Homo sapiens: one gene and its partners. The protein of the gene in region 6 purifies or fractionates together with the protein of the main gene of each other region. This does not show direct contact. Each region holds a gene or a part of one and is shown on either strand. Other genes may lie near its edges. The genes, in order: ZCRB1, POTEI, NLRP3, E2F3, KRR1 and DHX33.

Evidence for each region.
Region 1: the proteins of DHX33 (region 6) and ZCRB1 purify together in Homo sapiens (co-immunoprecipitation; one large-scale study listed by IntAct). This does not show direct contact.
Region 2: the proteins of DHX33 (region 6) and POTEI purify together in Homo sapiens (affinity purification with mass spectrometry; one large-scale study listed by BioGRID and IntAct). This does not show direct contact.
Region 3: the proteins of DHX33 (region 6) and NLRP3 purify together in Homo sapiens (affinity purification with western blotting, with the first as the bait; one study listed by BioGRID). This does not show direct contact.
Region 4: the proteins of DHX33 (region 6) and E2F3 purify together in Homo sapiens (pull-down; one large-scale study listed by IntAct). This does not show direct contact.
Region 5: the proteins of DHX33 (region 6) and KRR1 purify together in Homo sapiens (co-immunoprecipitation; one large-scale study listed by IntAct). This does not show direct contact.

The regions. Positions count from the first base shown.
Region 1 is NC_000012.12:42,315,868-42,319,720, reverse strand, and holds part of ZCRB1 (zinc finger CCHC-type and RNA-binding motif-containing protein 1), read left to right. Parts: intron 1-1,822; coding exon 1,823-1,934; intron 1,935-2,273; coding exon 2,274-2,381; intron 2,382-3,853.
Region 2 is NC_000002.12:130,485,111-130,488,963, reverse strand, and holds part of POTEI (POTE ankyrin domain family member I), read left to right. Parts: intron 1-765; coding exon 766-932; intron 933-3,853.
Region 3 is NC_000001.11:247,418,853-247,422,705, forward strand, and holds part of NLRP3 (NACHT, LRR and PYD domains-containing protein 3), read left to right. Parts: coding exon 1-225; intron 226-3,853. UniProt on the Homo sapiens protein: Sensor component of the NLRP3 inflammasome, which mediates inflammasome activation in response to defects in membrane integrity, leading to secretion of inflammatory cytokines IL1B and IL18 and pyroptosis.
Region 4 is NC_000006.12:20,474,744-20,478,596, forward strand, and holds part of E2F3 (transcription factor E2F3), read left to right. Parts: intron 1-3,853.
Region 5 is NC_000012.12:75,498,072-75,501,924, reverse strand, and holds part of KRR1 (KRR1 small subunit processome component homolog), read left to right. Parts: coding exon 1-2; exon of another isoform or gene 3-108; coding exon 109-202; exon of another isoform or gene 203-1,973; coding exon 1,974-2,116; 3' UTR 2,117-2,946; coding exon of another isoform or gene 2,947-3,101; 3' UTR 3,102-3,204; coding exon of another isoform or gene 3,205-3,231; 3' UTR 3,232-3,853. Other genes in the region: GLIPR1 (glioma pathogenesis-related protein 1 precursor), read right to left, coding at 2,947-3,101, 3,205-3,231. UniProt on the Homo sapiens protein: Part of the small subunit (SSU) processome, first precursor of the small eukaryotic ribosomal subunit.
Region 6 is NC_000017.11:5,465,889-5,470,335, reverse strand, and holds the start of DHX33 (ATP-dependent RNA helicase DHX33), read left to right. Parts: upstream 1-1,353; 5' UTR 1,354-1,476; coding exon 1,477-1,765; intron 1,766-4,447. UniProt on the Homo sapiens protein: Implicated in nucleolar organization, ribosome biogenesis, protein synthesis and cytoplasmic dsRNA sensing. Stimulates RNA polymerase I transcription of the 47S precursor rRNA.

The DNA of each region.
Region 1 (3,853 bases), on a different chromosome or scaffold from region 6:
GAGATGAGGCATTGTTTATGAATAACACAATTCAGCAGAGACTAGCATAACGGAGGAGAAATTATATCCAGTTGAAGCTATTAGAAACTGACACATTGACCTGAACCCCGAAAGAATGAGGAAAATTTTAATGAGCAGTGATTCAGAGGTGGAAGAAGATAGAAGCTGTATGAACAAAGGCACAAATTTGGGGAAATACAGGCCATGCTACTGGAGCATTGAGTGGTTTCTTTTGGGTAGACTTCATAGTGTGTGCGTGGGAAGGAGCAGTGAAAGATGAAGGAGATGGGAGCCAAATCATCAAGGATACTGACAGTGGGACAAAGAATAGGCAACTTACAGAACCAAAGATTTTTGAACAAAGGAATGGTGTGATTTTATTTATTCCTTAAGTAGAAGACTACTTAAGGATATGAGAAAATTATAAGAGAAAAAATTACCATAAAGGAACCAATAAGAATAGACTGTTAAAACAGTAATGCCCCTATGGACAAGAAAAAAGCAGTGGAATTGGAAAAGAGGCAACAGATGAGAGATCATTAATTGAGGATGATGTAGAAAGCCAATACTTCTTTTGAAATACTACTTTAAAAAAAAAGACTGATAACTTTCACAAACATTACGAAAAATTCCAAAACATAAAGCAACTACCTTATTCAATATTTCTGTCAAATTGGTGATTTTTCCAACTCCAGCATTCCCTCTACATTCACCAGTCATCCCTTGGCATTCTGTTGTAAGCAAGAGCCTTCCCTCCCATCTCCTCCACTTATTTATTGGTCTTTTATCAGTAAGAATTATAAATTCCTACCTTCTCTGTGGCTTATAATTTATTACTGTAATGAATTATTTTGATGCTCAAATTGTCCTTGATTTGGCCAGTGGGAGCTCCTTCCAGCTGGCTGCTGTATTCTTGGCCCCATCATTCATTCATTCATTCCTCCCTCCGTCTCTCTCTCTCTCACTCGCTCACGCACTCTTGCACTCTCTTACCTTCTGGCATAAGATGTTCCAAGCTCCTCTTGTACCTGCCCTGCTGTAGCCTTGGAATCCGCTATTTCTCCAAAGAGCCCTGTTGAACATTGTTTTTAAACTATGTTAAATGACATACGGTGGGCAAGGGCCTCCATGACTAGGGATGTGGATGGGGCAGGAGAAAGAGCAGGCTCTGTGCTCTCATAACTCTCCTTGTCACTCAGGTACACCCTGGTGGGTGGTATGGCTAAAAACCACAGAACTGGAGATTCTTTTTCCCTAAAGATCGGGGTCTCATTATGTTGCCCAGGCTGTTCTCAAACTCCCATGCTCAAGCATCCTCCTGCCTCTGCCTCCCAAGTAGCTGGAACTACAGGTGCGCACCACCACAACCAGCTCTGGAGGGTTTTTTTCCTTATTTTTCTGAAGATTCTTTAAAAGAATATTAAGAATATACTTTGATTCTAACACTTAGAAAAATAAATAAATCATTTTACTTTTTGTGTAAAGTATACCTTTATTTTGTTTTGTTTTGCAAGGTGAGGGAGTTAGCATGGAAGAGGGATTGTGGTTACACTTTAAGATTTCATTGTCTCTGTAATTTCTTTACTTCACCCTTCAATCTCTGATTAACTCCTAATCATAGCTGTGCTCACTTCTGTTAAATCAGTATCACCCTTTCCCATTTCCATTCTTGATATCCCTTGACTTTGAAGAGATAGCTGATTTTTCAAATGTATTAATTTATCTTATAAATTTTTAGCCCTTTTTAAAATGAATTTTTCAAGTATTAGTATCTGTTTTATTTATTGCTGCCTCATTTTTAACTCTTTGTTTATGCTTTAAGGGTTACCATCATGAAAGATAAAGATACCAGGAAGAGTAAAGGGGTTGCATTTATTTTATTTTTGGATAAAGACTCTGCACAAAACTGTACCAGGGCAATAAACAACAAACAGGTAAGCTATTCATCTCCATCAAGGTTTTTAGCCCCAAAGCCTTTATGCTCATCCAGGCCAAAAATGTGGGGATATAGTGGATCATCAGGTCTAGCAGATATCAGTAGATTCTTAAGATATCTAACTTATAGAAAGAAAAGAGGTCAAACTACTGGGTTCTCAAAACATTGGTGGAATCTCAGGAATAAGAATACTACAGAATAGAATTTATCACACCTAAGTGACAATTGCTAAAAAATCCAAAATAAACTGGAATTGAAGATTTGAGAAAATTGATTAAATAATTAATTTTAGGTTTCAGTGAAATACATTCTACATTTACATTTTTCTCTTGTTTAGTTATTTGGTAGAGTGATAAAAGCAAGCATTGCTATTGACAATGGAAGAGCAGCTGAGTTCATCCGAAGGCGAAACTACTTTGATAAATCTAAGTGTTATGAATGTGGGGTAAGTAAACCTAAAACTTAATGGAACTTTCCATAGTTTAAGATACTTTTCACATCAGTCTTTTATTTTTGCTCACCAAAACTTCTGACTGGCTAAACCAGATTATGAAAATGCTTTATTTTTTAATATTTATTTTTTTGAGATAGGGTTTTCCTCTGTCACCCAGTGCAGTGATGCAGTCACAACTCACTGCAGCCTCTACCTCCCGGGCCCAACTGATCCTCCCACCACAGTGTCTGAGTAGCTGGGACCACAGGCATGCACCATCACACCCTGGTTAATTTTTAAATTTTTTTGTAGAGGCAGGGTCTTCCTATGTTGCCCAGGCCAATCTCAAACTCCTGGGCTCAAGCAGTCCTCCCACCTCAGCCTCCCAAAGTGCTAGAGTTACAGGTGTTAGCCATGGTGCCTGGCCTAGTTGTTAGGGTCTCTAAACTCATCAAAGTAAATTCAATTGAAATGCAATGTGTAAAGATAACCTGAGTTGGGTAATACAAAGTGGTATTTTCTCTAGTTCCTAAATCTTTGAAAATCACTAGTTTTAAAAGTGTTAGACTGATTACTTATGTCACTGTCTTGCAAGATTTTCGTAACTCATAAATTTTTGTTAATAGGATATTGCCTGTTTCTTTAACAGTTTTTAAGTCACAGTTCAATAGCAACATTATCATGTGACTTTATCCTCTATGGGATATTGTGTTTTGAAGTTTTTTATTTTTTCCTATTAGTATTGCTAGTGTTTTGTAACTGAACTATCCCCACATTTTCTTCTTTGGTTCTCTTCATGATCTGTCATTATCCATTTAAAGTTTTGGTGATGAAGAGAGAGAGACAGCCATAGAATAATTTTGTATAAGGTCTGTATTGGTACCAAGAGAATTTTAGTCTGGTTCTCACAGGTGTAAGTTTGTAAAATGACCATAAAAATACTTAAGAAACAGGCCGGGCACAGTGGCTCACGCCTGTAATCCTAGCATTTTGGGATGCTGAGGTGGACGGATCACTTGAGGTCTGGAGTTCAAAAGCAGACTGACCAACATAGTGAAACTGAGTTTCTACTAAAAATACAAAAAAAAAATTAGCCAGGCATGGTGGCAGGTGCCTGTAATCCCAGCTACTTGGAAGGCTGAGGCAGGAGACTCGCTTGAACCCAGGAGGTGGAGGTTGCAGTGAGCCGAGATTACTCCACTGCACTCCAGCCTGGGCAACAGAGGGAGACTCTGTCTCAAAAATAAAAATAAACATAAAATAAAATACTTAAAAAACAGAGTCCAGAGGTAGTAATGGGGAACTGGGGAGAGAATCACTGAAAGATACCGTCCTGGCTACAAAATCACATGGAAGATGCAAGGAAATGGCTTGAGGTCCTCTACCCCACTGTCACTCCCCATACCCCCGACAAAAAAGATAACTAAATAAACAGACTGATGGATGGATGAATAGAAAGAGTGAGCAAGCAGTTGCTTGGATAC
Region 2 (3,853 bases), on a different chromosome or scaffold from region 6:
TTATCTTTCTTGGTTTTAGTCTGATTATCAATAGATAATGTGGCTAAAGAAGATAGCTTCTTATTCTGTGTATCTTCCAGCTAGAAAATTGTATGGCTATTCAATGTGAAATTTGGGGAGCATCTCATTTTCTGGAATTCCATGCTTGCACGTCAGCAGTTTCACTCTGCTTCTTGTGTTGTGGCAAACTTTGGCTCCCATTTTCAGTGAGCACCATCATGTTTTTGATATCCCAGCAACCAAATGAAAAAAGAATGCTCAAAGGCAGTGGGGTAGAAGAATATCTTAGCGCAGAAAAGGGCAAACTTCCTTTCTGTTCCTGAAGCCGCACAGTGTGTCATCCTCTAAATCTGACTGTTTAATGTAAAATCTAGGTGGTAAAGACAGAAGACACATTTTGCATCTTTGTCTTTTTATTTGCGTGTTCCCATGAGTCAAATGGGGTAAATACATACATAAGATTCTGAAGAGTGATTGAGAATAAAAGCATAAAATGAAGGAGGGCCCTTTTTGAATTTTGGAAAATTCTGTTTCATTCATTGAAACAGAAATGAAGCAAACTTTACAAAAATTTCTGTGATATATTAATGATATGATAATTACATCTTAAAGTTATATGGTAATATTTCTATATATATGATCAAATTTAAGTGTGAAATATTTTTAATGACTAAAATAATGACAAACTGAGTCAATTGATAGAATCAATTAAAAAGGTTCTTTTTATTCAATAAAGTGATAACTATCCTTAATATCCCACTCAAGGTTGAAGAAGAAATGAAGAAGCATGAAAGTAATAATGTGGGATTACTAGAAAACCTGAGTAATGGTGTCACTGCTGGCAATGGTGATGATGGATTAATTCCTCAAAGGAAGAGCAGAACACCTGAAAATCAGCAATTTCCTGACAACGAAAGTGAAGAGTATCACAGGTAAGCCTATGGCAACATTGAACAGGAGATAACTATGTGCTGTCAAACTAACCCTAGTTTGGGCTAATATTCATGATGAACAAATTTTATAGTTTTACTAGGATATTCAGCCTTGCCCGTTAATCAGAAAAATGAAAATCAGCGAACAATGAGTTACCATTTTTCCAGGCATTAATTTATTTGAAAAATAACCAGTATTGGCAAATGTGAGGGAAAAGGCATTTTCTTTTCTTTTTAGTGAACTTTTCTTTTAGTTTCAGGGGTACATGTGCAGGGTTATTATATAGGTAAAGTGTATCATGGAGATTTGGACTGCAGATTATTTCATCAGCCACATAATAAGCAAAACACCAAAAGTTAGTTTTTTGGTCGTCTCCCTCCCGTGACGCTCCACCTTCAAGTAGACCCTGGTGCCTGTTATTCTCCTCTTTGTGTCCATGAGTTCTCATTATTTAGTTCCCACTAATGAGTAAGAATATGTGGCATTTGATCTTCTGTTCCTGCATTAGTTTGCTTAGGATAATGGCCTCCAGCTCCATCTGTGTTGCTGCAAAAGAAATGGTTTCATTGTAAAAGACATTTCATACACTGCTGGTAAATACATTTTGAACATTAATTTAGTAGCATATTCACAAACACATGTATAACAATAAGGATATATAATATATGTAAAGGATATTTGTGTAGATGTTACATATATACTTATGTATAAGGACATTTATTACAGCATTATTATATCAAAAAGATGGATCCTTATCAATAGGAAATTATCATTATCAAAAGTAAATCATTACCAATAGGAAATAGCTCAATTTTCATACCCAGAAATTAATGTAGTATGCAACCATTTTTTACAAGTGAGGTTAGATCTAGAGTATACTGATTATTTCACAATTAAAGTGTATTTAAAGCATCAGTGATGACATCTTAAGAGTTCTTGTTAAAATTCTTGTAATATTTCCTGTGTTGCAAATGGAAGCTACATGCTATATTGATGCTGTACCTTGTTAGCAACAAGATTGCTAGTTATTAAATTTTTATGTCAGTGCCTGAGTGCTGAAATATTGGACCCTCAATCTGAATATTGCCAAGGGATTGTACATGGGGATCTGTATTTAATATAAACGTTTCAGTATATTGGGTAAAACTTTTATTAAAATGTATCAAAGGATCTTTCATCTGCTAAACCAGGAGTTGGCCAGCTTTTTCTGCAAAGAGCCAGTTAGTAAATATTTTAGGCTTTGTGGACTATATAAATTAATTTATTTTTGAGACAGGGTCTCACTCTGTTTCCCAGGCTGGAGTGCAGTTGTGTGATCATGGCTCACTGCAGTCTTGACTTTCTGAGCTCTAGTGATCCTCCCACCTCAGCCTCTCTACTAGTTGGGACCATAGGTGTGCAACATCACACCCAGCTAATTGACACTGTGGACTGTAAAGTGAATAAGCATGGCTGTGTTCCAAAATACTTGACTTACAAAAACAGGCAGTGGGCTGGATTTGGCCCAAGGTGCTAGTTTGCTGACCCTTGTGCTAAAAGGAAGGTGCTGCAAGTGAAGTGACTCTTATTTGTAAAAGTGCCCTGCGTGTGTGAAATTATCCTTCCTTTGAGAAAAGGATATATTTCAGTATTCACCTCACCATATTTTTCCACAGTGACTTCATATAATTTTAAAAATTTCATTTATAAAATAAGATTATTGTCTGCATTTCTCCCACTTTATTCCTGTTAATAGAACCCAGTATTTTGCTGTGATCAATTACTTTGTATATTTGATGAGTATCAGTTGTCCTAGAATTGGCTGATTTTATCAAGCAAGAAATACTCTCCTTGAAACTTTTAGTATTTCTTGGTCTTTATGCATAAGCATGAATAAAATGATAATCAGCTTATGTGTAATCTAGAAATGTTCAAGGCGACTTTTAGTTCTATAGTTTTAAGAATTTAACACCTCAGTCTGGCATTTTTAATGCCACATGTGTATAATTTTTATAACCTTTAAAATATATTATTGTTATATAAAATTTGAAAACTACACCTGTTATATAAAACTTGAAACTATTTGTCTATTACTTTTCCATGACTGTGGAAGAAAATTACAACATTCTCAGTCATGACTCCTAAGCATGATGTCCTTAAAAGAACTGTCCACACTCACGAACTCAAATTTTCTTTTCATTCACTCTTAATCTCACACCGGCGTCTTCAATTTCAGCAGTCCTCCAACATTGTTTTTCCTCAAGATTATCACAATTTTTTTTCTGTAAATTATGCATTTTTTCTTACACCTCATTTTATTTAATCTGTCAGCAATATTTGAGCCAGTGGAGGGCGTCTCCTCCCTAACGGCGTCTTCACTTGGCTTTCAGGACCTCACTCCCTCAAGCTTTTCCTCCTGCATTTCTAGTCCATTCATCATGGTCTGTTTTGCTTGCTCCTCCTCATCTTTCTCCTTTTGGACATTGTTGTTTCCCAGGGCTCAGTCCTCAATCTTCTTTCTCCTGACTTTTTCTTTTTCTTTTTTTGAGACGGAGTTTGACTCTGTCCCCCAGGCTGGAGTTCAGTGGTGTGATCTCAGCTCACTACAACTTCTGCCTCTTGGGTTTAAGTGATTCTCCTGCCTCAGCCTCCTGAGTAGCTGGCATTACAGGTGTGTGCCACCATGCCTGGCTAATTTTTGTATTTTTAGTAGAGACAGCATTTCCCCATGTTGGCCAGCCTGGTCTCAAACTCCTGATCTCAGGTGATCTGTCTGCCTTGGCCTCACAAAGTGTTGGGATTACAGGTGTGAGCCACTGCACCCGGCCCCTCGTGACTTTTTCTATTGTGTATATGCTAGTGATTTCCAAATGTATGTCTCCAGCTCAGATCTCTCTCCTTAATTCCAGATTTCTATATCAGCCTGCCTACTTGACGTCTC
Region 3 (3,853 bases), on a different chromosome or scaffold from region 6:
TGGACTTGAAGAAATTTAAGATGCACTTAGAGGACTATCCTCCCCAGAAGGGCTGCATCCCCCTCCCGAGGGGTCAGACAGAGAAGGCAGACCATGTGGATCTAGCCACGCTAATGATCGACTTCAATGGGGAGGAGAAGGCGTGGGCCATGGCCGTGTGGATCTTCGCTGCGATCAACAGGAGAGACCTTTATGAGAAAGCAAAAAGAGATGAGCCGAAGTGGGGTGAGTGGAAGGAAGACTTTTAAAAAAAATTGTGGCCAAGTGCACATAGTGTACAATTTTCCATCTTTATATATATATATATATATATTTTTTTTTGAGACGGAGTTGCTCTTGTTGCCCAGGCTGGAGTGCAATGGTGAGATCTTGGCTCACTGCAACCTCCACCTCCCGGGTTCAAGCGATTTTCCTGCCTCAGCCTCCCAAGTAGCTGGGATTACAGGCATTGCACCTCCACGCCCGGCTAATTTTGTATTTTTAGTAGAGATGGGGTTTCTCCATGTTGGTCAGGTTGGTCTCAAACTCCCGACCTCAGGTGATCCACCCGCCTCGGCCTCGCAAAGTGCTGGAATTACAGGTGTGAGCCACCGCGCCCGGCCGTAATAATTTTTAAATGTACAGTTCAGTAGTGTTAGGTACACTCACATTGTGCAACCAGTCTCCAGAACTGTTTTCATCTTGCAAAACTGAAACTCCTCACCCATTGAATGATAACTCCTCATTGCCTCATTCTCCCAGCCCTGGTAACCACCATTCTATTTGCCATCTCTGTGAATCTTACTACTCTGGGTACCTCATATAAGTGGAAACATACAGCATTTTTTCCTTTATGAGTAGTTTATTTCACTCAGCATAATGTCCTCCGGGTTCAACTATGTTGTAGCATGTGTCGGAATTCCCTTCCTTTAAAAAAGACTGTATAAATACTCCATGGTACCATATACCAAATTTTGTTTAGTTATCTGTTGATGAACACCTGGATTACTTCTACCTTTTTGTTATTGTTAATGCTGTTATGAGTGTTGGTGCACAAATATCTCTTCAAGACCCTGCTTTGAATTCTCTGGGGTATATACTCAGAAGTGAAATTTCTGAATCATACGGTAATTCTGTTAAATATTTTGAAGAACTGCTCTACTGTTTTAGATACCATCTGCACCATTTCCCACCAACAGCACACAAGGGTTCCAATTTCTCCATATCCTAAGAACACGTTATTTTTATTTATTTTTTCTTTTTTATAGTAGCCATTCTAATGAGTGTGAGGTGGTATCTCACTGTAGTTTTGATTTCCGTTTCCCTAATGATAAGTGATGCTGAGCACATTTTCACTGCTTGTTGGCCATTTATAGAGCTTCTTCAGAGAAAGTTCTGTTCAAGTTCTTTTCTCATTTTCAGACCAGGTTTGGCTTTTGTTGTTGCCTTGTAGGAGTTCTTTATGTATTCTAGATATTAACCCCATATCAGATATATGATTTACAAATATTTTCTCCTATTCTGTGGGTTGTCTTTTCATTTGGTTAACTGTGTCCTTTGATGCACAGAAGTTAGTATGATTTTTTTTTTTTTAAATCATGGCCGGGCATGGTGGCTCATGCCTGTAATTCCAGCACTTTGTGAGGCTGAGGTGGGTGGATCACCTGAGGTCAGGAGTTCAACACCAGCCTGGCCAACATGGCAAAACCCCATCTCTACTAAAAATACAAAAAAAATTAGCCGGGTGTGGTGGTGGGCACCTGTAATCCCAGCTACTCAGGAGGCTGAGGTAGGAGAATTGCTTGAACATGGGGAGTGGAGGTTGCAGTGAGCTGAGATTGCACCACGGCACTCCAGCCTGGGCTAAAGAGCAAGACCCTGTTTCAAAAAAAAATTTTTTTTTCTTGTATTGTCTTGGTTTTTTCTCTTTTCCCCTCTCACGGTAGTGCTATGAGAAGGTGGAGGCAAACTGTTTGCTTTCTCTAACTCCTTTAAAAAGCTGATGCAGACTGTACCTACCCCCTGGGCACCTGCCATGATTAGTCCCTCTTTATCTGAATCTCAGCAGTGCCTAGACCTGCCTCCAATTCTCCATCCAGCTTCTCAGACCACATGTTTTGTCCAGTATCTGCTGTGTGGTCAGCAGGCTTGGGCCTCTGCTTCCTATGGCCCAGAGGGCAGCCTCTCTCCTTGAAGAACCGTGGAGTTTGGGGCAGAAGCCTTTCCTTTCACCACCACTTTGGGAATTGGAATGTAAAAGAAATTCTCTTAATCCCCATGTACACATTGGGGATAAGGTTCTTTCTTTTGTCTTGTGTTCTAGGCAAAGGTAGGGCTCAGAGAAGGGCAGGGTATTGCAGGATGATGATGTAGAGCTGGTGGTGATGGGAAGGAGGAGTACAAATGAGTCAGTGGATAGGGAGACACATGTTAAGGCAGGGCAGCAGTGTGGGTGTAATGACACTGGGGAAACAGACAGCAGTGTGCAGCCGGGGGAGGTCAGAAACCAGTTGCTGCAATGGCTCTCACCTGTAGTCCCAGCTACTCAGGAGGCTAAGGCAGGAGGATCGCTTGAGCCCAGGAGCTCAAAACCAGCCTGAGCAACATAGGGAGACCTCATCTCTAAGTAAATAAAGCAATTATCATTGTGTCAGTACTTATATACTCACATACCCAAATGAAAGTGTCATAATCACAACTGTAGAAGTACTTTGCTAAGCAGTTTTTATGGATTTTATGGCACATTCAAGAAACCCATGAAACAGCTTCTGGTATTATCCCTCCTGCAAGTGAATGAGGTGAGCCTGGAAGAGATCCTAACTGGCCCATGGTTTATTTCTAGCCATAACCAGAGCTGGGGTAAAAAGCAGGGCATGTCTCTGATCAAAGCCTGGCTCTTAACCACTACACCGTCTTTGCTTCCATATCTGGATTTTGAGGCAGAAAAGTTATAACTAGGGTTAGAAGTTTGTTTGTTTGTTTCCTGGGGTGGGGTTAGGTTTTAGGTAATAGACTTTGGCTAATTTACTGTCATGGCTCCTACCTGAGTCCCAGTTACTCAGGTGGCTGAAGTGGGTGCATCACTTGAGCTCAGGAGTTCCAGGCTGGAGTGAGCTATGACCATGCCACTGCCCTCCAGCTTTGGAAACAAAGCAAGACTCTGTCTCTTAAAAAAAAAGAATAAGATTTTGGTTTTGGCTTAGATTTTTTGGATTTTATTTTGTGATATGGTTACCAAGTAGACAGCTGTCAGAGGTCTTTTATGGGCTGGGCGCAGTGGCTTATGCCTGTAATCCCAGCACTTCAGGAGGCCAAGATGGGAGGATTGCTTGAGCCCAGGAGTTTGAGACCAGCCTGGGCAACATAGTGAGAACCTGTCTCTACAAAAAATGCAAACATTAGTTAGGTGTGGTGGCACGTGTCAATAGTCCCAGCTGTTCTGGAGGCTGAGGTGGGAGGATCACTTGAGCCCAGGAGGTTGAGGCTGCAGGGAGCCATGATTGTGTCATTGCACTCCAGCCTGGGCAATAGAGTGAGGCCCTGTCTCAAAAAAAAAAAAAAAATCATTTATGTTACTTGTAGATTCCTGCCCACCTGAAGTTATCTGTCTTATATATTTCCCCTAGTGACTAACTCTTGTTTTACCTAACCTGAATTTCTCCTATAGAATGCCTTCTTAAGATATGCTATCTAGTGACTGTTTGGATTTGTGATTCTCAACACAGATGCATGTTGGAATCACCTGGGAGCTTTTAGTATGTGATGGTTCCTGGGCCTCACCTCAGAGGGACTGAAAAAGAACCTCTGGGCGTGCAGTCCTGAAGTCCATATTTTTAAAGCTTCCTGGGTGATTCTAAAGTCAGCCAGGATTCCC
Region 4 (3,853 bases), on a different chromosome or scaffold from region 6:
ATAATGCTGCTCCATCAAATATCAAAATTCTTAGCCCTTTTTCAAGAGATTCTAATTATTGCACCCATGTTCAGATCTGAGACCAAACAGGTAATATGTGGTCCCCACAAATCCAGTTCCGCCCTCCCTGTTCACTCAACAGGGGAGGAAAAATAACAGGATAACCCAACGGGAACCTCCCTTCTGAAAAGGGGAAATGACATAAAGTGCTCACCTCCTGCTTCTTGTCATGTCCTCCACAGGGACAGCAGTTTGTAGAGCCTATAAGTCCACCCCAAGTTCCACCTCCTGGGAGGAATTCTGGGGCTGCCCCTTCTTCACACCTCACTTATTTCTGGCGTGGCTTTTGGACCTAGTGATTGATTTCCTTAGAGGTTCAACATCATGGACCTTCACTTTCTAGACTTAGTGATTCTTTCGCAATAAAAGTGCCTTGCAATTTTAGTAGCTTGTCCATCTAGCATTCAAATTTGGTCAATTTATGGTTTGGTGCTTAGTAACGAGAGTTACACATGAAGACTAGTCCCGGTCTTTCGAAGTTAAGTCTCAGTCACTTAGCAGCAGACATGGAAATTTCCCTAACCTACAGTTTAATGGTTCCATAGGCCTTTGCCTCATGGCAGTCTGAAACAGCAGCCTGGGAGGGAGAGATAAAACTAGTATGCCCCCAGCCTGCTGACCAGTGGGTGGTTCTTTACTGCTGAGGCACGGCCCTAGGTCCCTAGGAGTTCTGGGTCCCAGACTCTTTTCCAAGTTTGCCTTCTTTCTGTTCACTTTATTTTCATTTTTTGAGACAAGAGTCTTTCTCTGTCATCCAGGCTGGATTGCGGAGGCACCAACCTCCACCTCCCAGGTTCAAGCAATTCTCATGCCCCAGCCTCCCAAGTAACTGGAACTACAGGTGCATGCTACCATGCTGGGCTACTTTTTGTATTTTTAGTAGAGTTAGGGTTTCACCAGGCTGGTCTCAAACTCCTGACCTCAGGTGATCTGCCTACCTCGGCCTCTCAAAGTGCTGGGATTACAGGCGTGAGCCATTGTGCCCAGCCCATTTGTTGACTTTAATTTGGGCAGAGAATACAGCTCTATGTCTCCTTAGATTGCTTTCTGTAGAGAAGGCCTCCATAGCAAAGCTGTTTTCTTTGAGGCGGGCCAGCCTCAGATGAAGTTTCTCTCTATCTGTAGTATCTTCCTGGCGGTCACAAGAAGTGACCAACACACTCTGCCACTCTCTAACAAGGCCTGCCAACTCCCTGTCACACCATAGCCATCTTGACTCAGCCAGTTCCATAAGCTGTCACTGGCAACAGCACAATTCTAGGTTCCCGACTCAAAACACTTGAAGCAGCTGGGCACGGTGGCTCACGCCTGTAATCCCAGCACTTGAGGAGGCCGAGGAAGGCGGATCACGAGGTCAGGAGATCAAGAAGATCCTGGCTAACATGGTGAAACCCCGTCTCTACTAAAACTACAAAAAATTAGCCGGGCGTGGTGGCGGACGCCTGTAGTCCCAGCTACTCGAGAGGCTGAGGCAGGAGAATGGCATGAACCCGGGAGGCGGAGCTTGCAATAAGTTGAAATTGCACCACTGCACTCCAGCCTGGGTGACAGAGCGAGACTCCGGGTCTCAAAAAAAAAAAATGCTTTAAGCAAAAAGGAGAGTTTATTGGCTAATGTAACTGGAAAGTCTGGGAAAGACCAACAGTTGCCCCCAGGGCATGACCAGAGCCAGAGTTTTGAGTGGTGGTCTCAGACCCCTCTCTCTCCTTCTCTCCACTCTGCTTTCCCCTGGGAAGGCCCCATTCTCAGGCAGCTTTAGGCTCCTCACTTACCAACCTTACTGGAAAGACATACCTGCTTCTTGCCAGATAGTTCCAGAAACATTCCTGGGGTTAGCCTTTGCTCCTCCAGCCTTGGTCATAAGCCATTCAACCTGTTCGCGGTGGGGGCGGGGAGGGCAGGATGGGCCACAATGATTAGCCAGGCCTGGATCACCTGTGTGCACAGATGCGCTTAGACCAGGAAAGGGATGGCTCCCCAAGGAACAAACAGGGAGCTTCTGCCTGATAAAGAGTGAATGTTTGCTGGACCAACCACAGCAGGCCCACACAAGGACTTGACAGAATGGCTGGGAGGGGAAGATGAAGTCCAGCAAGCAGATTGTCCTTCCGGAGCCATTAGAATGATGTTTAACTTAGCACTGCAGTAGAAAGATAAGGTGTGCCACTGAGGCAAGCCACATCGTAAAATATATATATAAAGAAACAGATGAAATAATTTTAATGCTACATCTGACCCATTAACAACATTGGGGTTAGAGGTGCCCTGACACAGTCAAAAATTTAGATAGATCTTTTGACTCCCCTAAACTTAACTAATAGCCTGTTGTTTGGGGTTTTCATTATTATTTTAGTGATGGGGGGTCTTGCTACGTTGATCAGGCTGGTCTTGAACTCTTGGCCTCAAGTCATCCTCCTGAGTAGCTGGGATTACAGGTGTGATCCATGCACCCAGCCCTAATAGCCTACTGTTGACTAGAAGCCTTACCAATAACATAAACAGTCATTAACACATTTCATATGGTATATGTATTATATACTGTATTCTTACAATGAAGTTAGAGAGGAAATGTTATCAATAAAAGAAAGTTTGGAATGAATGAAAGTGGAATCCACAGGATAGATTTCCCTCATCAGCCAAGCAGGACTAGAGGTGAGGGTGTGTGAAATAGGCCGTGCTGGGCAGAGCTGGGCTTTGCCTGAGTGTCTTACTCTTTTCCCTTATGATCTAAAGCCAGGTTTCTCCAACTTTAAGGTGTATCAGAATCACCTGGAAGGCCTGTTAGATTGCTCAGCCCCATTCCCAGAGTTTCTGATCCAATGCATCTTAGGTATGCTCTGGAATTTGCGTTTCCTAGCAGCTGAACTTGGTCCAGGGTTCAAAGTGTAGAAGGCATATGGGCATATAAAGCAGCTGGATGAAAAAAAAATCATAAGGAAGAGAAAATAGATTTACTATTCATTACTGGAAGTGGATCATCATAAAATTCATCCTCGTTATCTTCACATTGAGGAAGGTGTGGTGAAAGAAAAGAGGAGGGGTTGGTCTTACTGTCTCAGGGATGACAGAGGAAGAAGAAAACCCACATATAGGTGGACACACTCATGGCCGGGTGCAGTGGCTCACGGCTGTAATCCCAGCACTTTGGGAGGATGAGGCAGGAGGATCACTTGAGCCCAAGAGTTCAACACCAGCCTGGGCAACATACAGAGGCCCCATCTCTACCCAAAAAAAAAAAAATTTAAATTAGCCAGACATCATGGTGTGCACCTGTGGTCCCATCTACTCAGGAGGCTGAGATGGGAGGATTCCTTGAGCCTGGGAGGACAAGGTTGCAGTGAGCTGAGATCACACCACTGCACTCCAGCCTGGGCGGCAGAGCAAGACCCTGTCTCTAAAAAAATAAAATCAGTGGAAACGGACAGTCCAAACCCATGTTGTTCAAGGGTCAGTTGTATTTTATTTATTTCATTTAACATGTGATCACTACTAAAATTGTTGAGATATTTTACCCTGTTTTGTACTAAGTCTTCGAAATTCAGTGTGTATTTTACAATTATAGCACATGTCAGTTTGGATGAGCTAGTAACCAGTGGCTATCGTAGTAGACGGTGCAGGGTTAGCTGGTAACTTTCCATAGAGGGGCTGAATATCTAGCTTCCGCTGATAAGTTATTACTTACGTTTTCACATCACGGGGAGTTGTTTTGAAATTGCAACTCTCGGCTGGGTACAGTGGCTCACGCCTGTAATCCCATCACTTTGGGAGGCCAAGGTGGGCAGATCACCAAAGA
Region 5 (3,853 bases), on a different chromosome or scaffold from region 6:
AGGTACGGCACTTTATGTCTGGCTCACATGAATAGCAAAGTTCATAGATACTTGAATTATTTAACTATAAATACATTTAACTGATATATTTTTTATTTATTAATGTAGGCTAAACAAGCAGAAGCCATCAGTAAGAGACAAGAGGAAAGAAACAAAGCATTTATTCCACCTAAGGAAAAACCAATTGTGAAACCTAAGGAAGGTAATGCTTTCTATGATGTAAAAGTCTTTATTAATTAGGAAAAGTAAACCCATAATAAATTTGTCTGAATCTTTTTAAGAAACAGTTGTATCTTTTCATCAGTTCTCTTAGCATTTCATTAATTACTAATCCTAAGGACAAGGGATGGCTGAGATAATTTATAATTTAGAGGCAGCTAATGCCTATTTCAGTGCAAACTGGATTGACAGTCCTCTCCTGACCTCTGGTCTGTGCTTGGAAAAGACTCTTTGTTGTGAAAGATACAAACCCAGGGCAGCCAGTGCATCTTCTGTAGAAATGCAAGAAGATCCCTGAGCTCTGCTGTCATGCCTCTCAAAGAGGAATTATCAGAAGTTGTACTTTTTCTTCTCTTTATGTGATCTTGGCTTAGAGTTTGGCTTCTATATCGGTAACATGGATTTCTCATCACCTTAGACTAAAGGATGCTGACAGGTCTTATTCAGGAGCTATTAGTGCGAAAGTGATTGTGGTTTTTAAATGGCAGAAATCACTTTCGCACTAACCTAGTATTTAAAAGACACTAAGAGAAAACATTGTCATGCCATTTCTTCTGATGCATCCTCTTCTGCATTTTTTTCCCCTGTGGTAACACTTATCCTCTTCCTAAAGTAACCCTCCAAAGTGAACAGTGACACACTGAAGGGAGAGGGCTCACCAGCAATATTGTACATAGACTGGGTCAGAAACAGATATAATACATTATTATTTTAATATATTGCTTGTTAATAGCTTTAAAAATACTACATTCTATGGTAGATTATTGGTTATATAAAAGGTAGAAATGTCATAAGTATTATAATTTCCAGTCTGTAAAACCTGTCAGTTGAGTGCTTTGAAGGTACTCAATATACTCAATAGCTAGTTACCCTAATTTAGTTTCTCCACACGGTGGAGGCTTTAACACTCTGTGCTTCTCAGGTTGCTGGGTAGTTTGATGTTTTATCTTATGATTCTTTTATGCTGTGATCCTGTACTTTGAATGGTAAGAAAAAGTTGCATTCTTTTTCACTGCTTCCTTTCTCTATTTTGTTCACACTTTTGGCATTGATTAGATAGTTGGCTTCTATTAGGGGGACTTCCACACACTCTCAAATTATTGTCTTTATTACCAAAATGTTGTTAAATATACCAAAATCTTGTTAAAATACTATTAATTAGTCATTCATTGAATTAATATTCAATGAATTAATCTAACATTAAATGAATTAATTCATTGAATATTCAATTAATATTGAATTAATATTTGGAAAACTTTAAATTTTCGTTTTGATATTAGAGGAAGTAGATTTTGACCTCTAGCTTAGGGTTAGCTGATTAAACTTATTGAGAAGGGATACATGTAATTTTAAATTATTTTAATGTGCAAGATGGAAAATAATGACTCAGAAGTTCCAAAATATGGAAAAGAATGTAGGTAAAATAATTTAGTCTGAAGTAGGATTTAAGGAAATAGTCTTAATATAGTTGAATCCAGTAATTGGTTCAATTATGCCATTTATGCCATTTTTATGTATACTTGTACTAATATATAAAGTATTTTATGATTTGTTTTATCTTAATCTGAAGAAATTTCTAACTGCTTTAGGCAAGTGTTTTTATATTTTATACTGTGATCACCTTTCAATTATTCAATTATAAGAATACTCTGAAGTTAACTGCCTTAAACATATATTCTTTGTTAAACATATATTCTTTGTTTTACTTGGTAAAATCTAAAGTATTACATGTGTTGTGCTTTTAATTTGTCTAGCTTCTACTGAAACTAAAATTGATGTGGCCAGCATCAAGGAAAAGGTTAAGAAAGCAAAGAATAAGAAACTGGGAGCTCTTACAGCTGAAGAAATTGCACTTAAGATGGAGGCAGATGAAAAGAAAAAGAAGAAAAAAAAGTAACATACCCAAAACTCCTTGACTAGAACTATCTCCTTTTGTAAAGGATTTTGAGATATCAGGCATTAGTTGCCTTATTTGTGAGAAATTTTCTGAGGGCTTTTTTTTTTTTTGGTGGTGGTGGTTGTTCATAGAAGAGTGTTCTTTATAAATTATATTATTATTGTATTTTTTGAAAAATTTATACGAGAAAGTGGTATATAAGTCTTTGTATACATTACGACCATTGTGATTATCCATTAAATCCAGTGTCTGATGCTATTGGTTAGTAATGATGTCCCAGCATTTGATGTTCCCTCTCTAATGATAACAAGTAAATATTTAGGTTTATCCCTTTTGAAAGTTTGGTTTTACTTTTAACAGTCCATGAACAGAAAATTAAGGCCTCTAAAATCAGATCCCCTAGTTACTCCTCTGTTCTGAATCTGGGGAAGTAGTAAACCAAAAAGACAGGGAAAACCAGATATTTAGAGTCGAAGCAGCATGCAAAAAATAATAATGTTTTTAACTAATGAAGGCTACTGGAGTTACTAAGAATCACCTAAAAATGTGCTACTGTACCTTGCTCATTTTGCAGATTTAGAAGCTGAAACATGGGTTAGGTTACTTACTAAAAGTCCACCTGTGGCAACCTGCAAATAATGCTTATTTATACTAAAGATGAGTTTATCTGATAGAGTTAGGAAATTTCTTCTTTTGAGTAAGAGTATTGCTATAACATATATTTTTTTCTGAAATGTTTTAAAATAGAAGTACACCTAATTGTTATTGGTTAAAAAAAAAGCCATATGTGAATGAGGTTGGTTTTTGGGTTTTTTCTTTCCTGAATTGTATTAGTCCAAAAGAACTAAATTAGGGTACTTGTGCTGTACCAAAATGGTAATTATAACAGACAGTATTAGAATTACTGAATTAACAATGAGAAAGAGAGAAGTGTATCTGTTACGTGGATATATGGGCCAGCCTGGATATACAACAGAGTAGTAACCTGTGAAACAAACATAGAATATCCTCTTAGACATTGTTCCTCATAATGCACTGACAGAATTCACATAGCTCTTAATGAAACAATTTAAGATTGATGTACGTACGTTTGACTTGGTCTCGCTGTCGGTTAACTGTAAAGTTAGGGGGAAGAAAGAAAAAAAATTAAAAGGGTAGACACAGTTGAGAGTTTTATTTTAAAAAGCTAAGTCTTATAATTATGACCATTAACTTGCTTTGGCTTTATTGCAGTGACTTTCCAAGTTTAATTATTCAAAACTTTTTGAACTGACTGAATTAACTTGGTATTTTTAAGTTGACTTTTTACATAAACTTTATAAACCTTTTATAAAAAGGAAACTATACCATTACTATAAATGGAAAATCATTTTACACATCATACCTAGCAGGTAATAAAATTTAAAAAATAAAAATTAAATATTAGAATGTGAGAAATTTATTAAAATATAGTTCTAAAAATAAGTTTCTTCCTGAGAAGAATGATACTGTTTATGATGAATCCATAGTGAAAAGACAGTGACCTCTCTTTCATCCAGTCTAGTATATCACTAAATCATCATTACGATGTTTGGCTATCAAGTCATTAATTACTGTCCTCCTTTCACTGAGCTTTATTCAAATTTTGACAATCAGAGCACTGGGAAGAAATAAATTCCACAACTGCCTTTAGCCTTCTGGATACTTTCTTTTATAAAATAGAAACCTTTTCCACACCAGTTCTGCAGCAGTCGCTAT
Region 6 (4,447 bases):
ACACAAATCTGCTGCTGGTTCAACGTGCACATTTTCAGTAATGCCTGGTCACCAAACTGTCAGCAACTAGAGGAAAATTATCTCCGACCTGGAGCAAAGGGGAGGTTTTTTGTTTTTAGACTAGCTCTCTCACGAATCACGGGAAGGGAGATATTTAACAGGGCGAGTTTCATGGAAACGAGCTTCAGAAGATACCCTTCACATGAGCTGAAGCTTACGGTGTATTCTCTGGAAATCACATTTCCTGTAAGAGCAAACAGCTACTTGGCATTCTCCGTGGTAAATTAGCAAATCATCTAAGAACTTTTAGGAGGGTAAGGAAGAACTAGTTATAATCCTACTTTTTTCTGCTGCAGTTCTGAATCTTCACTGAAGTGTCTGTGATGGGGTTGCACAGCCATGTAGAGAACTTGAGAGTCTGGCTGGAATGGTTGGGGGAAAGGAAAGATAAAAGACAATTTTAATTTCATTGAACTCCCTCCTTTCTCTGCTTGTATTACTGGAGGCGACCACATCCGTTGGAGGAGTCATTTTCTGAGTTAAATTCATGTATATCAGAATTGGTTTTCCTTTCTGTAACACAAGATGATCACAAAATTATGATTTGGGGACATCTGAATGACTAAGATGACTCAATTTCTTAATCTGTAAATTAGAGATAATCTAATAACCAGTATATACCACATAACTTATAAGTTGTTTAGAGGATTAGACAATGCACGTTTGCGCTTCTCATTGATTTTACAGAATTAAGTACTTTCCTTGAAGAGTGACTGTTATTTGGACAGAGAAGGGGAAAACGCGGGTTTACTGAAAAGAAGTAATGCTACTAGAACAAAACAATGGGCGGGGCGCGGTGGCTCACGCCTATAATCCCAGCACTTTGGGAGGCCGAGGCAGGCGGATCACCTGAGGTCGGGAGTTCAAGACCAGCCTGACCAACATGGAGAAACCCTGTCTCTACTAAAAATACAAAATTAGACGGGCCCCGGTGGCGCACGCCTGTAACCCCAGCTACTTGGGAGGCTGAGGCAGGAGAATCGCTTGAACCCAGGAGGCGGAGGTTGCAGTGTGAGCCGAGATCGCGCCATTGCACTCCAGCCTGGGCAACAAGAGCGAAACTCCATCTCAAAAAAAAAAAATAAAACAATGAGAAAAACCTCGTTAACCAAGACTACAGTCCCACGGAACCTTACATCCTGTGTTTCCCGGTTGTAGCTCCGGGCCTTTTCCTGGTTGTACCTCAGGCCCTGCTTTTCCCACCCCCAGGAAGTGAAAGCCTTCCCAAGCCCCCAAGGCATGCTGGGAGATGCAGTCCCTTTTTCTAAAGACTGGGGCGGCCGTGAGGTCATCGGTGGTCGCCGGGAGCCGCCAGCACGTGGCGGCGAGGAAGGGGCGGTGTGCTCCTGTTGTCTGCACCTGAGAGGGGGCAGGAGCTCTCGGCGCTTGCGCCTCCCGCCGCGGTGCCCTCCCGACATGCCGGAGGAGGCGGGCTTCCCGCCGGCCAAGAGATTCCGGCCAGGCTCTGGACCTCCGAGCCGCGCTGGGTCCTTCCCTCCCGGGAGGCAAGTGGTGATGCTGCTGACTGCGGGCAGCGGCGGCAGAGGAGGAGGAGGAGGCCGGAGGCAGCAGCCGCCCCTGGCCCAGCCCTCGGCCAGTCCCTACCCTGAAGCTGTGGAGCTGCAGCGCCGGAGTCTGCCCATCTTCCAAGCGCGGGGGCAACTGTTGGCCCAGCTCCGAAACCTGGACAACGCGGTCCTCATCGGTGAGTGGCCGCGCCGGCGGGCTCTTCCTTGCACTTCGTCCGTGGCTTAGCTAGAGCAGTTTTTCTTACATGCCTCTCAATCCCTTTCGTTCGTGGCTTCAACAAACCTGAATACCTTTTCTGGGCCAGACCTGGAGAGGGGCCTCGAAGAAGAGTCCGGCAGCCCTGCCCTGGAGGCGCTGGACAGCCCGGTGAGAGTGACCAACGTGTGTAGGCAAAGACTCACCTTCCGCGTAAAAGGGTAGAGAAACGTACCGGGGGCTTGCGGATCTTAGAAGAGTGGATCTGACCCGGTTTGTGAGGAGGCGGCTGGGGAGGTCGTGTGGGAGGGAGGGCATTCTAGGCAGGGGGGAAAGCCCGTTTGAGAGATGGGAACCTGAACACATTCCGGTCGAAAGGGAAGGTGTAGTTTCTGGTGCATGAAAAGAGGCAGAGTTGTGGGGCAGGGACTGATTTCATGGGGCTTATGATCCCCAACGTGTTAGAGGAGATACTGAAGGACGGAAAGGATGAGCAGCCAAAGAGAGGAAGGAGACCCATGAGTGCTGCTAGTCAAAGGAATAGAGAGTGAGCAGATGCAGCAGTCAAGTCCGGTTATACTGGACTTGGATGTGATGCCCACTGGATTTGGATGTGAGCTATTTGTAAGAGTTAAAGAAAAAGGAAAGAAACACGAAACGCGGCTGGCAGTTAAAGACAGCTTTTCTTTAGTTAAAACCTGAGAGGCGCTCCTGGCCGATTTCGGTCAGGAGCCCTTTCTCTTACAGACTAAGAGTATATATTGGTGTTAGGGTGAGGGGGCTTATCACAAGCTTGGAATGTTTATATGTGTGGAGAAGTTTTTGGCAGGGTTGGACTCTTTGGGAGCAGGGGATGTTATCTTGGGGCAGACATTTTTCCGGCCCGAGGGGGTTTATCTCCCGGCTGGCATATTCCCGGCTGGCATATTCCCGGCCAGAGTGGGGTTATCCCTTAACATGTCTCTGGTCGGGGAGGAGTTTGGAATGTTTCTGGCTGGAGATGTTATTTGTGGTTTATGGTCGTGCTGACCTTAGCCATTAGGCTGATACCTTTTGGATTTAGGCGGTTTTTTATTAAGGTGAACTTTTGAATGAGGGGCTTGTCCAAGATGGTGATGTTCCTGCTTTGTCAATCCAGACCCTATAGTTATAAAAAGGAGGAGGGACGGCATGTTCTTTCTGGCTACTTCCTGCAACGAGGGGATGGAGAGTTTCCTGGTCTCGGGTTGACTAGGAGCAATGCCGTCTGTAGATGTTTTTGGGTAGTTGTTTGTGAAATTGCCATGATCCTGTCAGTTAAAAATCTTTGAAAAAGATTAATTAGGCAGGGTAAGAACATTAGTTCCAGGCATATTATTAGGAGAGGGCCCAGGAATGGGATGACCCATGCTATGATTTTGTTTTCAAACCAAGAGTCCATTTGGTGGTTTTGGTACTCCCTTAGCTTTTTAGCCTTTTCTTTACGTTTTTTAGCAGCGCTTTTTACTAGGCCCGATTGGTTGATATAGAAAGAGGCGTGAGCCACCGCACCTGGCCCCCTCAAAACAATTATTTAACCTTTTAACGTAGGTAAAAATGTGCATTCTTATCCCTCCTGATAATCTTTTTACCGAAAGTGTACTTTACTTTCCTTACACACCTTGCACATAAAGTGTCTCTTCAATAGTTTTAAATACATGTTACACTGTTAACTTTTAGCAACCTTTACCTTTGTTGAAAACCTTGGTAAGTTCGGGATTTTAATTATGTGCTAGGTGTACAGCCTAGGACTTAGACAGAAGTGCAGTTAAGGTCTGGCTTATTTCAGCATTTAGCTCCATGTGTCCTAGGTTTTACCTAGCTGCAAAGCAGGCAAGTTCTACAGCTAAGAGTTATGGTGACATTTTATAAAGCATTCAGGAGGCCTAATCACTTTTAAATTGTAAAACATTTCTTGCATACATTTCCTCTCATAAAATTTTTCATGACTTTCACAGACTATCTCTGACACTATTGATCGTGGATCCATCCCATCGAGAGCTATTTCAACAAAGCTGTGTGGGTAACAGCTGATTTGTCATTGAGCTGAGGGCTGAAAGCAGGGGGAAGAGGCTTCTGTTTTGAGGAAAAAGGAGGGAAGCTGAGAGAAACTTTATGGATGCTGCTCGATTTAGGATGGGGTTATGTGTGGATGAATCCACCCATCCTCATAAGTTGAAAATATCCTAAGTTGGAAATGCATTTAATATGCCCAGCCTACTTTCAGTGTGCTCGGAACATGTACATTAGCCTATGGTTGGGTGATATTATCTAACATGAAACCTATTTTATAATAAAGTCTTGAATATTTCATGCAATTTATTGAATACCATACTGAAAGTGACAGTTGTGTGGGTACTCAAAAGTACAGTTTCTACTGTACGATTTTGACTTTTGCTCCATCCTGAAGTCAAACAGTTCTAAGACAGGGACCATCTGTATTCAGAGGTTGAGGGGAAGAACTCAGTAGGGAGGGAGGCAGAAGATAGAATCGAGCTAACAGAGCAAAGATCAGGAGGCATGGGGGACGGGGGAACTTGGCCACAAGGGCTAGATGCAGGGCTGGTCTGGAAGAGGAGGAAGGCTAAGAGGCTGCAGGGCTAGAGAACGGATGTAAGGATGGTGCACTGCAGAAGGGCTTCTA